Regions from separate parts of the Homo sapiens genome. Here region 2 is linked to region 1. Evidence: fine-mapped expression QTL. A gene starts in region 1. The other region holds a variant in brackets. All regions are shown on one strand. Distances are from middle to middle.

Region 1 (8,338 bases):
ATGTTAATCACCCTGAACTACGTGGAATAAATTCTATTTAACAGCAGACTGACTAATTAATTCCATTAGGTAAATATGATGAAAGTACAACTAATGACTCTTTAACAAAGAAGGTGTCAAAAATCCAATATAGATATGAATACATTTTGAAGAAGAAATTCGAAGTTTTAATGCTACAGACTGCAACATGTTAGCTGTTTGCACTTCAGATATGGAAGGAGTACATGTCCCATCCAATCAATAATGTAGTTATCAAGTGTTCTAACATTGCTGTAAGTGTTCCTTCACCAGAATAAGTATGAATCAAAATTTTATAACAATACAGAATGCTGATGATTACATCACAGCATGAGGCATACCCAAATGCCATAGAGGAAATCATTAAACCGATCAGTAGTTTCCAGCAGAGATTTGAACAATTCAGTTACTATGCGAGCACATTAAACTAGGCCATGGAAAGAGTTAAACCACAATCTGTTCTTTGTGTGGGAAGGCAGCCCTGCTCACAGCAACCACATCCCATGATAAGACCTCCCTATCTCCATACACTTTCTGATGCCATGCTTTTAGCTTTCACTGTAACTACAAAAACTTTGTTTATCCCCTTTAGGAATATATGCAAAAGGAAAGCCTGCTCAAGGAAATGTGGACTTAAATGTGCTTTGGAAACTCACTTCCTATAATCTTTTACTACGATTTATTGATATGACTAAAAAACACACATATATGCACTCACAAAACTAAAACCTTGAGAATGTAAAGAGCACATGAGGTGGAGTGGGTGGGCTCTGTCTCACTCATTTTACCCTTGCCATGCTTTTTAAAATGCAATATTATTTTATAAATATTAAGCCATGTGGTAACACGTAAGTACTTACACCTTAAGTACTATGTTCAGTGACATTTCATTTTCTTATAAAGACATCAAACACAGTTTTGATTAAATTTGAGTTTCAATATTTGATTATAAATATAATCTATCACACAAGAAAGCTCAAAATTTTAATGAGTTATTTTAAACAACCAAAATTCAAATTTGAAGGTTGAATTTGAAAATTCTTAGCAAATGCACACAGTTTTTAAACGTTCCTTTGACTTTGCTGTCAATGCTGCCAATATTGTTTTAAAACATGCTCTTTTTTTTGAGAAATAAAAGTAGCAAACTTTCTCAGGCTGCCAGTTTGCCTTATTGATATCGTTCAGGGTTTCACTATTATGTGAATTCAAGTGAAGCACTTATTTGACAAGGGGACATATCCTCCAAAAATGACTGTAAATTGAGGTTTGCTGTAAGTCGCATATATTTCTGTATTAACATGCCTAAATGTCATCTCCCAAGTGTGACTGTTTCCTAATGCTGAGTAACACTAGAGTCTTAAAGATTATGAGTGACATGAATATGGAACATAATAACTGTCCTGATACAAAAATATTTTTTTAAAAGGTGATTAAGGTTTTCAAATATCCTAACTAGTAGTGGATTATTACAATAGCATTAAGCAATCATAAATTCTTTAAAAAAAGCAAAACATATAAGTGATTTAAAACCAAACAACTGTATACAAAGGTAATAGGCAACTTTGCTCTTTCAGAATTTTTAGTAAAATGCATTGATGTTCAGTAATTCTCTTTTAAAACTTCCTTTAGTTGAACTAAATTGACAAAGTAAATAACAAAGTTACCAATTTCAGATATAAAAATAAAGAGTCTTAATTCCACTAGGCATATTTATTTTTCTTCCGTTTCCATGAAAGGGATGGATAATTTAGACCAACATAGAGGTAGAAGAGTAAATACTAGGTGCTCTTGGCGCATTGCTATATAACAACAAATCATGCAAAAAATGTACCTAAAGAACTTAAAAGCAACGAAAGAAAAATATATTTAATGCCATCATGCCAATTGAAAGTTATATTATTAATGGTTTACATTATTTTTAAACATATATTAAATCATATGATAGTTCTTAATTTTTCCTTTATATCTGATTTATACTGGTGTATAAATATTGGTTATTGATATGCTGATTTTGTAGCATACTATTTTGCTAAACATAACATTTAATGGTAGGTCCTTTTAAATTAAGATTTTTTTTCTAAAACCTAGATACCTTATTGCAACAATTGAGATACTTTTAAAAGTTTATAACCAATTAAGAATGATACTCTATTTTGCAATTTACATGTCCTGAGACATGTTTTTCTACAGCTACTAGGCTCTTGTGATACAAAACTACTGATCTGATACAAAAGTGACACTATTAATGTGGCCTCACTTTTATAACACCTATATTACCTGCAAAGTCACATGGAGCTTAGTGAAGTGAAAATTCTTAAGCTGAAATTCCTTCCCTGGTGTAGGCCTTGTTTTAATACATAAGCCTAGATTTATATTATTAAAATAGTAGAGAATATTAGTCATCACAAGTTATTGTTGTTAAGTGTGTATCTCTGAATACTAATGTGATAGCTGAATGATTATGCTGTATATGATCCCAACATTCCCTGTCTCAATGCTGCAATATTATCTTTAACTTACACAAATTAAGATAAAACTAGTGACTTTTCAATACATATTTGGAGGATACTAAAAATGCAATGTAATTGCTAGCAATGTTTCTGAAAAGCTGATGTTAGAAATATAGAGAAATGCACAATTATTCAATCTTTTACAGGTGAGAATAAGTGATGCTATACTCTGTAAGTGAAAATCTTGCTTTGATTTGTTTTATTTGATCACGGTGTAAAAATAATATCAAGTTAACACAGCTTATCAGAAAGAGAAAAATATATCCAGCCGATGGGTAATATTAATGGTAACTTTTACAAGTAAAGGCAATTCGTTATACCTGAAACAGTTTCATCATATTTATTGGCTATTATCATTCATGGCTTTTAAAATACAAATAGCTCAGCAACTCATTTTTCCAGTTTTGTTAAATTAAAGTGCGTGTTTACTTGCTGAAAATAGCCATATCTAAGTTAATCATACTCAGATGCCAAACAAAATATAAACAATAAAAAATGTGTCAGCCAAAAAGCTACAGGACTGTATCCAATCACTGAATAAGCCTTATCATTGTTTTCATCTTCATTCACAATTTATGAATGCCTCAGTCCTTTTGAATCACAATGGCTTCTAATTGTCATACAATTGAAATCTTAATTATTTGTCCATTATAAAAATGCATCATCGTGATATTAGATGTTTTTAAAATTTTAACACGCCCAAGACTGGCTGACACTTCTTTATATGACTAGTTTTCATGGCAATGTCAAAGAAAATAGTTATCAATTACCAATGGTGACACATCTTCCGAAAAGCTGAAATAAGCTGCCCCATACCTTTAGAGGTTTAAAATACTGCCTCAAATAACAGTTCTGGGCTAAGATATTTTAGTTACTTTGTCAGTTGTTAGTTCCCTGGGCAGCGATGAAAACTGCCCCCAGGTAAGTCTGTTGGGTCTCGCCGCTTTTCTATTTGACCGTCTGGCTTAAAGTGATACAAATCGTGTTTCTAAAAAGTATAAAACCAGTGTTTTATTTCATAACATTATTCCTAAGGTCTTAGGACAATTCTCAAAGTCGAAAAAAATGACCTTACTTCTACCAGCATTACTTAAAATGCCTTACGAGCTACGCCCAAATATCGTCAAATGAACAGGTTTCCACAAAAGGAACACGTTCTAAAAACTCCTTAACAATCACCAAGACCAACTAACTCGTGTCAACGTAAATACTGCCTTTGTGGTGCGGTCACTAGAAACCCCAAAGTGCAGCAGGTCACTATGGACCAGGGTTTCAGATCCCCAAATAAAGCAAAGGAATGGGTCCCCGGACCACAACCTCCGACTCGATTCGTCGCCCGCCCACCGCCTGCAGCGCAGTCCAGCGGCGCCCACACAGACTCGTGCTACAGTCCCCTCGCCCAAGTTCACTGGCTGTTTTTAAAAGCTTAGTCCCCCGTAAAGTCCTCCAAAGCCCGAGTCCACCTCAACGCGCGAGCTGCTGAGAGGGGCTACGGGCACCCCGGGCGGGGATGCCGCACCACAACGGGCACTTGAGGGGCCGCACGGGGCCTCGCACTTACAGGTCCCGGCCCTGCCCACCCCCCGGCGGCCTTGCCCGGCCCAGCGCCCGCGCTCCGTGCCCAGGGCGCGGGGCTGGGCGCTCGCAGTGGCCGTGGCGAGGGGCCGCTCCCGGCTCCCACGCCGCCCCGCGACGCCCGCTGCAACTCCGGGCCACTTCTCCAAGGGACGGGGATGTGCGGAGGTTAACTCAAGCCGCTAATTGTCCGCAACAAAACAAAACAAAGGCATTTCGGGCCAGAGAGAAAGCTCGAGAAAGCGACCGAGACATGTACCTGAGTGAGACAGATGGGAGAATACATCATGACTTCGCCTTAAAACGCACTTTCCGGGAGATGCCCAAGAAAATCTTCGAGAAGCAAGAATTTCATCTATTCATTTTACAGTCATCTGAGCCCCGCGATGCGATCAATCAGGACGGGGCTCTGCGCTGGATCACCGCAACTTCACAACAAACCCAGTCCTCCTTAAATAGCCAAAGATTCAAGTTCACTCGGCGTGCTAGATTTCCAGGGGTGAAATCCAATCTACACTTTTAACCCTCTTGCAGTCCGAGCGCGCTGGCCGTGCTTGCCGAGGCCGCCGCCGCCGCCGGTGTTGGCTGCTTTTCGCCTGGGTTTGGGGATTTGTTTTCTATTTTGCAGTTGTTGTTGTTGTTGGGGTGTAGGGGGTGCGCGAAGGTTCGGTGTGGGTTGGATTGGGGTGGTGGTTGGTGGTAAAATGCTTTTTCAAAAAAGGCGGGGAGGGGGGCGCGGGAGGGCGCAGGAGGGCGAGCGGGCGGGCGGGAGGGAGAGCGGGGAGAATGTGTCACCGCGCTGGGAAAGTTCAAGGTTACAGCCCCAAGCACTGCGGCAGGATCCCGGAGTGGTGATCGCAGGCGAAACTTTGCCGCGAGCCGACCATGTGTGTGCGCGAGGGGCAGCGTGAGCGAGTGCGCGCGGGTGGCGGGGCGCGCGCGGGAGAGGGCCGGGGTGGGGGCGGGGTGGGATGGGGGAGAAGGGAGAGGCCGGGGTGAGGGAGGGGGCGCGAGCGCTGATCTCTGGGGCGGAAGAGGCTCGCGGCGCGTGGTCCCCGGCAGCAGCAGCCGCCGCCGCCCGCGCCGGGTCTTCGGCGCCCGGCCGCCCGCCCGCCCGCCTCGCCCCGCGTCTGACCCGGCCGAGCGTGGAGGCTGCTGTTGCCGCCGCTGCCCAGAGCCCAGGGGTATCAAAACGATCTCCTGAAAAATTCCAAACGATAAATCCCGCTCTCCCGCTCGGCTCCAAACTCCTCTCTTTTCTGCTCTAGGCTCTTTTTTTTCCCTCCCTCTCTTGCTTTCTTTCGTTGCAAAACTTGGAAGTTGAAAAATTCACCGGTTCCACCCTCTGGACCCCGCTCGAGCTCTCTCCAAATCAGACTTAAGGATTGTTTTATTATTTAATTACACAATCATCGCTTTACTCCTCCTCCTGCAAACGCGCATTCCTTTTGCACCAGCCTCTCCACACCCCCCGCCCCCCCACCTTCCTCCTCCTCCTCCTTCTCCTTCTCTCCCCCCACCTCTCCCTCATTTGTTAAAGGTATCCTACCGGTGCTACAGAACCATGACTTTTTTTTTTTTTCCAAAATAGCTCTTCTTTCCGCTGCCCTCCCCACACCAGCACACACATACACACCCCCGAAAACCCGCCCTGGAAGAGGTATTTCGGTGCTCGCTGCGGACTCTTTTAAGCCGCGGGAACATCCGAGTGGGAGAAGCACCGAAACCGTCTGAGCCCGAGAAAGGAACGAGTGGAAAATTCCCTCACACCCAGGCCGCCCCCAGGCCGGGGCTGGGGCGCGGACACTCGCACCCGGGGCGGGCTCAGTCCGCGGAGCCTGCGGCTGCCGGGAAAAGGGGGAGGCCGAGCAGGCGGGGACCTGAGCGAACTTGGGCTCAAGTAGTTGGGGCGCGCCGGCGTGGACCAGGGGGGTGCGGCGCCCAGCCCCCGACGGCCCCGCCCGGAGCCCGGGTTCGCGGATAGGGAGGGGGTGCGGGTTCGTCCCGGGTCTGCCCACCAGGGGCCCGCACCCGAGGCAGTCGCGGCGCGCGGCGCTTCGCCGCGGTTTGCCGCCCTCCCCGGGGGTGCCCCGTGCACGTGGCCTCGCTCTGAGCGGGAGGACCGGGCCGAGCCGCCGCCGCCGCCTCTTGCTCCCTCCACCTCCTCCCCGCGCCCGGCTTCGCTCTCCTCCTCCTCCTCCTGCAGCCCCGCTGGCTGGCTCCCAATCCCCACCCCCCGGGGCCCGGGGCGCCGGCGGAAAGCGTCTCCCTACCCGCCCGGGTGCAGGCGGGGCGGGGCCGCGGCGCGCCCGGGGCTGCGGGGCGGGCCGGCGGGCGCGCGCGCGCCGCTGCAGCCCTCCAGAGGCTGCGGGCCCTGAGCCGCTCGGCGCCCGCGCCGGCTCCCCACCGCGGCGCTGCCCCGCCCCCACCCCGTCGCCCGTGCAGGCTCCGAGTGAATGAACTTGATTCCAGGGATTTTGAAGAAGGCGGTTCGCCTTGCACCCTTTCTGCACCCCCCGCCCACATACACACACCGCCCCCCAAATCCAGTTTTCTGCTTGGGGTGGATGGGGACGAGGGGGAAGCAAAGGCCTCCCAGACAATGGAGGGAGGAAAAGTGAGCGCCTGGGGCTCCGAGTCTACCTAGCTGGGGGATCCGGGGGGCGCTGGGGCTACCGGGTCCTCGCGGGCCCATCCCCAGGGCGGGGCCGCCCCGCTTCCACGGGTACTGCTGGGGCGTTTCGAGGCTCGCCCCCGATTCCCCGGTCCTCTTTCCACCGCTTCCCAGCTCGTGATCTGTCCCCTCAACTTTAGCCCCTCTCACTCCCTCTGGTTTCTGTCCACCGTCCCCTCTTCCCTCCCCCAGCGGACCTGGAGGAACCAGTGACTTTTTCCTTCACCAAGTGGGAGTTATCCACATCAAGCATTTCACAACGACACATCAAGAAAAGTAGGCAGGTTCAAGTCAACCATGAAATGGTCACTTTTTAACCCCGTCCTGTCCTCATTAGGGAAATGCTCAAACACAGTCCGTTTTCAAAGAGCGCTCTTAATGAGGCGAGCTTGCCAAGTTTACCAGCTGCAGCCCCCGTAAACCCAGAGCCCAAAGAAGAAAGGCGCTGGGGGGTGGGGAGTTCGGGAGGCCGGGGACGGGGGCTGCTGGGACTAGGAAGACAGGTAAAGTCGGGGAGATCGCGCGGACCCCTGCGAGTTAACCCTTTCGGCCACACGCCCTGGGAGCGGCCTCCCTGCGGTCCCCGCCCCTGCCCCGGCAAATCCTGGAGTCAGCGTTCTGACAACGTTAATTTCCTTTGTGCGGGTCATTTCTTCTTTTTGAAAAGCTGGGATAAAGTTGGCAGTCTTTATGGATGAAAGAAATGAGGTGACAGGGTTAATCCAAGTAAATACTCATTTCTCTCAGAAATTTTAGGCAACCTCATCTTAGATTAAACACACACAGACACACACACACAGAGAAACCACCAGCACGAAAGCATCACTTTGTATTGCACATTACACTGCATCCCCTTTCTCACCCTCACCAGATTCTGAGGGGAGGGGGTGGGGAAGCTCTACTGATAATACCAGCTTTAACTACTGCAGTTTCCCTTTGAACAAATATTCAATTTAACTGGAGTTAATTTACCATAAAAGACATTCCCCTTGGCAGGAATGCACTAATATCCTTGAACACACCTCTTTGAATGCCTGGACTCTCATAGAAGCCATTATTTCGGGGTCTCTTTAAAAATCGAGCGCCCATCTCTCCTTCTCTCCCTCCCTCCCTTCTTCCCTCCCTCCTCACCACACCACCCCCAGTGAAATCCTGGCACCCAGAGAGCACTCCTTTCAGCCTGAGAGCCCAGAACCAGCCGTTGTCCCCTGGCAAAAAGAGGCCCAGGGCTGAGCCCTGGGCAAGTGTCTCCCGACATCGCTACCCCTCCTCCCTTTATTAGTTTCCCTTTCCCAACAGAAACCATTTCCTTCTGCCACCAAAACTAGGTTGCATCCAAAAGTTTTTCACAAGCTTAAAAAAGAAAAACGAAAAATTGACAAGTATTACACAGAAGAGCCCACAAAAGCTTCAGCAACACCAAGGGCGAAGAAGCAGCGTCAGATCCAGGTAAGACCCCAGAGAAGTGAAGACGTCTGGGGCCTCCCAGGCCCATCACTTAGGGGTTCAAATCTCTTTCAATTGCCCCACGTTTGAGGGTGCTTATGGCTGGTTGCACTTT
Region 2 (8,338 bases), 45 kb after region 1:
AGATTTTAGTGTCTCCTTTCCTTTTAAAAATAAAAAAATAGCTCTTTTGAGCACAGAACCTCCCTCACCACCACCTTTTGTGGAGCCTCCTGCAAGAAAGCTGCAGAGTGAACAGGGCTTCAGTCTCTGCTCTGTTTCTTTTAAAAATAAAGTACTAAAGTATTGTGCTGGAAATTCTGCTACTAAGTGTTACATGTGGTAGGTGTGAATATATGCTTCAATAGTTCCAGGCACAAGACCAAAATCTTCCCCAGAATTAGCAGAGTTTTCAGCTATAATCTGGCTAACATTTTTCTACAAATAGGTACAAAGACCAATTTGAGAGTACGGTCTCTCTAAGGGGCTACATGGTTGGGTTTCCATTGAAATTTAGGGCCATCCCTTGTACAGTCAGGTGAATTTTTAAGTGGGATCAGCCCTGGGGAATAATTATGTAGTCGCTGAGGGTTTTTCTCTCCTAAAATCTCCAAATCTAGTTTCTGAGGTGAGCAGTCAGTTATACCTCATGGCAATTTTTTCCTTCAGCATTGCATTTAAATGGTTATCTCTATGTAATGGGTACTCTGTGTGTGTGTGTGTGTGTGTGTGTGTGTGTGTGTGTAGAAATGGATTGTCCCGTGAAGGATCACTTGAACAGCAACCTTAGCTTTACAGATGTGAAGGGAGTGTGTAGCCCTTGTCCTGTTGTGAACACTGTCACTATTCCTTGTGCGGCAGGGGAGGAGCAGGTCTCTCTAAATGAGAGAAGCGAACCAGAGGAAGAACAGCAGCACAAATGAGATGACCTATAGCAACCGACCCCTGCTTCAGGGATGGGGAGATGCTGTGTGTGTGTGAGCATGTTTGGGTTGGAGTAAGCACAGTGACTTGGAACACTGCACCCCTCCCCAAAGGGAAAAGCTGTGTTACAGGCTGAACTGTGCCACTCCAAAATCACCCTTGATACCTCAGAATGTGACTGTATTTGGAGATAGGGCCTTTAAGGGGGTACTTAAGTTATTATGAAGTGGGCCCTAATCCAGTATGACTGGTGGAGTCCCTGTAAGAAGTGATTAGGACACAGACATGTATAGAGGGAAGACCATATGAAGACGGAGTAGGTAGCCATCTACAAAGAAAGAGGCCTCGGAAGAAACCAACCCTGCTGACAACTTGATCTCAGACTTGAGCCCCTAGAATTGTGAGAAAATAAATTTCTGCTGTTTAAGCCACCCAATCTGCAGTATTTTGTAATGGCAAGCGCAGCAAACCAATACAACAAGATGATACTCTGCACCAGCCCATTATGTACAGCCATTTGGAGATGCAGACCCAGGGTTACCAGATTCTCTATTTGAAGAATCTTTTGCTTTTTAAATATTGGCAGCAGGGCTGGCTTCCTGGGTGTGTGTCCTTTGCAGTCACACGGGATCCCATACTTAGAAGTGCCCCACGTTGGCTTAAATACCCTGCTTGCCTGGCCGGCTGCAGTGGCTCACGCCTGTAATCCCAACACTCTGGGAGGCCGAGGCAGGTGGATCACAAGGTCAGGAGTTCGAGACCATCCTGCCTAACACGGTGAAACCCTGTCTCTACTAAAAATACAAAGAAATTAGCCAGTCGTGGTGGCGGGTGCCTGTAGTCCCAGCTACTCCGGAGGCTGAGGCAGGAGAATGGCATGAACCCGGGAGGCGGAGCTTGCAGTGAGCTGAGATCACGCCACTGCACTGCAGCCTGGGTGACAGAGCGAGACTCCGCCTCAAACAAACAAACAAATAAAAAAAAAAAAAAAAGGCCAATTTGCAATTCTTAAACTTTCAACAACGGGCTTGCATTTTTGCATTGCACTGGTCCCTCACAAACTGTGTGGCCAGTGCTAGCTGACAACTAGTACACGTTTTAAATAATGTGCATATTAAGATTATGGGGTCCCAAACAAAATATGCCTGAGGCTGGGGCAGCGTGAGACACTAGTACGCACTTTTTGTCACTAACTGGATTAAAACTTCCCATTCTCTGGTAGTCACTAGGAGGGAACTTATGGATCCCAGAGGTTTTCTTGAAGTGGGAAAAAGAAAGGCACAGATACTCCCCAGGATGTTATTTCCCAAGATTCCACATGAGCTAGTGTGGCTCGGACCAAGATTTTCTTTTCCCAGGGATGGATACTGAGGATTTCACAATAAGAATATCTTGAGAAAAGGCCCCACACGAGGAACTAGTGTTTGGGGTTGAGGGCTAAGTTTAGCCCTGCATGTGGCTGATGCTGGTGGGCTTTGGGAAGCTGGAGCTGAATATGCTACCCAGAATGGTCAGCAAGGCCCTGAGGGGCAGTGCAGCCCCGTGTAAAAACAGCACCGAGACAGAGCAAGAAACAACAGTGAGAGCAGGACTGATTTCGTCTCCTGTTTTTTGCCTGGGGTTTACGAGCAGGACTCCTCTCTTGCACTCCACCAGTTTCAGGATTATTAAGGGGTCCTCAGCTGGGGTGAGTTAGGAGGGCTGAGCTGGAGAGTAAAACTGGATGGTCTGAGGGTCTGGGTGATCCTGAGCACTTAATTATGAATAATGATACACTTCAGTTTTATAGTGCATGCCATACCAGTGGATTCTAATTTGGAAGGGAAACTTTTGCTCTTGCTGAAAGGAATGTCAGTCACCGGTGAGTGGTCATGGGGCTGTTATGGGGAGATCCTGTTTTTAAGGATATACACTGATTTATAGAAGCTCACTGAAAATATTATAGCGGAATGTTTGGTCAGGAGGTCTGCTTTTCTAGTTCTATTTCTGCTCAGTACTGGCTAACTGAAGAGTGTAAATTTTAAAAGAAGTAATTTCTTATGCACACTGTGCAAAATCCCTCAGGGGAATGAGTGAAAGACTGTTTGAAATGCTCTGAATTTCTTGGAAAAGAGTTGCTGTATAAATTAATATAGGGCCTTCTTTTTCATTGCAGGTCTGCAGGACACACCAAAGAACTCCTCCAAGTCACACAAGGGAGAAAATTAACTTCATTGGCTTCTATCAGGAAAGCTATTTTTTTTTTCCTCTTCTTTCCTGCAAGTTTCCCAAACCCCATGACTCTGATTTCCAGGTCAGAGACTAAGGTTTTATTTTTCTTACTCTGTATACTTTATATGTGGAGAGTCCCTGAAGGAACACTGTGATGGGCTGATTACTGTGAGCCAGTTGTGGGCCAGACCTGGCCTCAGGTGCTGCAAAGGGAATTCAGTCACCCCTGTGCAGTGATCTGTGAGCCCCAAGTCAGATCCAACTTTTTCCTGATAGACAGCACCCTCCTCCTCCCTACCAAGAAATAGCAGGGTTGGAGGTAGTGACCCAATATTCAAGAGGTTTGAAATTCTACATGAGATATTTCTGAGTTAACTCCTAAATAGCAGTTTCCTTAATCATGTGGAAAATAAGAACACTTACTAAAGAGACCATTGGTTTAAGAGAAATGGAAACTTATGTCCACGTAAAAACCTGTAAATGAATGTTCACAGCAGCCTTTTCATAATAGCCAAAAAGGGAAAGCAATCCACACGTCCATCAACCAATGAATGGATAAACTTAACGTGGGATATACGTGTAATGGAATGCTATTTGGTGAAGAAAGAAATGAAATATTAATACATGCGTTAACAAGGATGGACCTTAAAATATCATGCTAAGTAAGAGAAGCCTGTCACAAAAGAATATGTATTGTACCATTCTACTTATATGAAATTCCTAGAATAGGCAATTCTATAGGGACAGAAACTAGACTAGTGATTGGCTAGAGCTTGGGGAGAGTTTGGGGAGCCTGGAGGATGACAGCAAAGTGGTGCAGAGTTTCTTTTTAGGTTGATTAAATGTTGTAAAATTAATTGTAGTGATGGTTGTGCAACTTTGTGATTTTGTTAAAAACCATTGCATTTTGCCCTTTAAATGGATGAATTGCACAATGTGTGAATTAGACATAAGTTTATTTACATAATTAATATCTATTTATTGATATATAACTCATATATCAATAAATATATACTATATAAAATAATTTTATATTTATATAAAATGTGAATTATATATAAATACATAAATAAAACTGCTAAAAACTAAAAAATATATACTTTAAAAAAAGGCTGTTCGTTTCTTTCACATTTTCTGAGCACAATCACTTTGGGATAAATGTGTCCAGGCTTAAAAAGCCAGATTTTATGGGCTAACTAAAATGGAAATGTGAAAAACTGTGTTTTTTTCCATAGGAGGAGAGAGTCTGATTTGCAGGTACGTGCATACCCACAGCAGTCATACTTGTAATTCTTGGAAACTTTGCTGAAAGTTTTTTCCTAGCCTGAAATCATTAAAATATGTTGAAACAATGACACTGAGGACTGAGGTGGATTCGTTGTTTTTGTCTTCCCAATGTTACTTTCTCCTTCTTTAGGTAGTAGCACCCCAGTTTTCTCTAAAAGAAACCACACACCCTATTTCCAGTTCATGT[G/T]GTTTGGCTATTGCTGACCTTACACCCTAGGCTCTATGACTCAGGCCCCATCAGTCAGCGTATTTTATCCAGTGGTCTGTTGCAGCCAACTCATATCAACTCATCCAAATCAACTGGTAAATGTTCAGAAATTTCATGTGCCAGTTGTTAAACACTCACCATTAAAATTTAAAGTTCACAACCTTATAATTAAATTATGTTAAAAATGAAGGTAATGATACATCAACCTTATCATCACTTCCTAATCATTTGACTGCATTTTACTATTATTTATGCTCTTGAGTTTACTTACATCTGTTGGATCTGGTAGTAGAAACACCGGATAATGGCGTGCTGCTATACATCTCTTCCCAATTCCATGTTCATTGACTTCCCTTTGATAGCTTGAAGTTGGCCATGGTAGCAGCGTTTACACTACAGAACTGGGCAAATGCTACAAGATCAGGGTATACCCTTTCTTGCCAAGGAGATTGTTAAACTGGCAGCTGTAGTGGGTTGAATGGTGGCCCCTAAAAAGATATGTCCAAATCCTAGCCTGTGGAACTTGTGAATGTGACCTTATTTGAAAAAAGGCCTTTGCACGTGTGACTAGGTTAAGGATCTTGAGATGAAATCCTCCTGGATTATCCATGTGGGCTCTATATACAATCATGTGTACCCTTATGGGATAAAGGCAGAAGCAATTTGACACAGACACACCAAAGAGACATAAAGATAAGATGAGGAAGCAATGGCCACACAGGCCGAGATTGCAGTGATGTGGCCGGAAACCAAGGAATACCTGGAGGCACCAGAAGCTGGATGAGAAAGAAACAAAATCTCCCCCAGAGCTTCCAGAGGTAGCATGACCCTGCTGACACCTTGACTTTGGACTAGTGGCCTCCATAAATGTGAGATAATCAATTTCTTTTGTTTTAAGCCACCAGTTTTTGGAAATTTGTTATGGGAGCCATAAGAAACTATTAATAATACACCAGCTCACCACTGCAGCACTAGTGTATGGTTGAGGGATGGGCATGTGATACAAGCTAGGGCAATGGGAACTCAGCTTCTATGGTAAAACAAACACTCTCCTTCTCCCTGGGGTTGCTGGGTGGTTCCATCTTTGCTACTAGATATACCTATGAATGAAAGCAGCGCAGAAAGTAGTAAAGTTAGATTTAAAGAAAGACATTTAAAGCAGCACAGAAAGTAGTAAAGTTAGATTTAAAGAAAGGCATTGTTTAAGAAACTGGATCTATTCTACCACTAGATTTTTAAATATTACATATTATATGAGAAAATTATTTTTTTTCTTTTTAAGCCAAATTCCTAACCAATGTAGACATGCTAATTTTTGGAGAACTTTTGAAAGTGCTCATCTGCACAGAGAGCATTTTAAATACATATAGTTGTTATCACTTGGTCAGTTACTATTTAAATGAGGCATAACTAAAAAAGACAATCAGGAAAATATATAGCAAACAGTGAACAACTTAAGACCTACCTGAATTCAATCATGTTCATTTGTGCTACAAACACTTATATTAAGCCCAACCCTTATCTAAAGCATTCGATTCAGGACAGATATCCATCTATTTAAGAGCTTACAATTTATTTGCCAGTAAGAAATTTGGTATAGCCCCCATATTGAGGTCACTAGCAGTATGAACTTTTCATTATATAGTTTATAATTTTCCGAACAGTTCTAAATTCAAGTAATTTTATTATTTTTCCTAAACAGAATTTGGTTAATGCACAATTAAAATACTTTTAATTCTTTATGAGATTACATTTAACTACATCCACAAATTATAACAAAAAGTATTTTGGCAAATTGAATGATTTGGGTGGAAAAATATTATTATGGTGATTTTCTGTTTTTTTCTTTTTTTTTTTTTTGAGATGGAGTCTCACTCTGTCGCCCAGGCTGGAGTGCAGTGGCGCGATCTCGGCTCACTGCAAGCTCCGCCTCCCGGGCTCACACCATTCTCCTGCCTCAGCCTTCTGAGCAGCTGGGACTACAGGCGCCCGCCAATACGCCCGGCTAATTTTTTGTATTTTTAGTAGAGACGGGGTTTCACCTTGTTAGCCAGAATGGTCTCGATCTCCTGACCTCGTCATCCGCCCGCCTGGGCCTCCCAAAGCCTGGGCCTCAAGCCTGGGATTACAGGCTTGAGCCACCGCGCCTGGCCTTATGGTGATTTTCAGTGATGTTGTACCTTTGGTTAATTTTGTACCTTTTGATAATTTTTATTTGTTAGTGTGGAAGAGCACTTTTCTGAAAGGAACATGTCACAGAAAACCCCAGGGATAGACATATTTCATTAATTATTTTTAAAATAAAAATAAAATGATTTACATTCAGCATTTCTATCTTTAATGATTTTTCCAGGTTTAAGAGATTTCAAATTAATTTTGTCACCCATAATCCTGTTTGTTTTCCTCCACTTTCAAATACCTTTGTTTTTTGATGAGCACATTTTGGATGAATTCCCAGTCAACTTTTTAATCTAATTAAATTCAGATAAGTTTAACTCAGATAACATTTACAGTCAGCTCCTTGAGAGTTGATTAACTGGGAGCTCATCTTTCAGAATTCTTAAAAAAAAAAAAAAAAAGACTTTTGAGGATTGCTTTTTGCTAAAAGAGCCCATTACTAATGCTGATGTCACTGGCATCAGTAAACTAACACCCACTTGTCTTGGTTTAAAATGATAATAGGCTTTCAAATGCAAATATTCAAATATCATATTATTCTTCAGCACTTCTGTATTTGCTAGTAGCATTACTGATCAAAAAGAGAATTGTTCTGAATATTTTCATGAACAAGCAAGCAAACCACATCACATCACATACATGCACACACATGCATGCATGCAAGGCACATAAATGATTTCACTAATGACATATAGCATACATTAGTCAAGCAATTGTATTAATTCAAGTCTACTCTCTTTGTAGTCTAGAACAGTCTCCCTCTTTGCTACACAACAGTAGCCACTAAAATCTTTTGGAAGATTAGGATCATTCAATATGAAGTTAAAAGAAAACATGAAAAAATGAAAGCTTAGTTTTAGGATTTCCCATTTTTTTCTTAGCCCTGTAATAGCCTAAAATAAAACTTGGGAACAAATGAGGTTTACCAATGACAGGAGTAAACAGACTCAATGTAAATGTTTATAGGAAAGGCAAGGAAGCTAATTCCTTTCCATTAACAAAAAGGAGCTTTTAAATCTTACTCATTCTTGATAATGCTGGCTAATGAGAAGCCCAGCAAGTTTGCTTTTTCCTTAAAGCTGAAACAAAACTCAACACAAAAGGTGAAATACAAGGAACCAAAGAAAATCATTGATTTGTTCTTTGATGACAACTTTATGCCAGAGGTACTAGGGCCTCTCTACATTAATTGTTTTCTTCATAAGGAAACCACTATAGAAATTTAGGTGAATGGAGATAATTAAGTAGTTCTGTGGCTCCAATTCTAACATGTCTTTTTAAAAAAGAAAAAATCAAATACCCCAACATTTGCCCAGGAACCAGAGGAGAAAAATAGCCTTCTAAGAGTTAGGCCCTCAAGATATTTCAAAGCTGCCTGGACAATGACTTGGAATGACTACAATGGTGAACCATTCTGCCTTGGACCCAAATCTAGATTTATGACCTAATATATCTTTCCCAACTCTGCCTGCCATAGTTTTATGAACATCAAGAACTGGGTGTCTGCCACTGTCAACAAATAGAGCTTCTCCAGAGCATTTCCATCCACAGAAACTCAAGTATCCCCAAAGGAACATAGATCGCAGTCTTCCAAGGCTGCCTTGGGATGCCTCAGGATGCCTCTAGCTTTCACCACAAACTGTGGGGAAACTGTTTTGGCAGGATAATTCTTCA

Evidence for each region. PIP is the estimated chance that this variant, and not a neighbour inherited with it, causes the effect.
Region 2: its variant is fine-mapped to the expression of NFIB in fibroblasts (GTEx, PIP above 0.99).

What each region holds. Positions count from the first base shown.
Region 1 is chr9:14,309,120-14,317,457 of GRCh38, forward strand. It overlaps NFIB (nuclear factor I B), which reads right to left and starts at 5,022. Exons shown (of 11, transcript NM_001190737.2): 1 at 4,363-5,022. The coding sequence starts at 4,392. It overlaps NFIB-AS1 (NFIB antisense RNA 1), which reads left to right and starts at 7,968. Exons shown (of 2, transcript NR_186536.1): 1 at 7,968-8,226. RefSeq lists a silencer at 4,431-4,725.
Region 2 is chr9:14,354,217-14,362,554 of GRCh38, forward strand. It overlaps NFIB-AS1 (NFIB antisense RNA 1), which reads left to right. Exons shown (of 2, transcript NR_186536.1): 2 at 2,936-4,348. It also overlaps a transcript of NFIB not described here. Among named protein-coding and RNA genes, the nearest start is that of NFIB-AS1, 41 kb to the left of the region's middle. RefSeq lists an enhancer at 1,566-2,065. The variant G/T (reference allele first, on the strand shown) is at 4,466.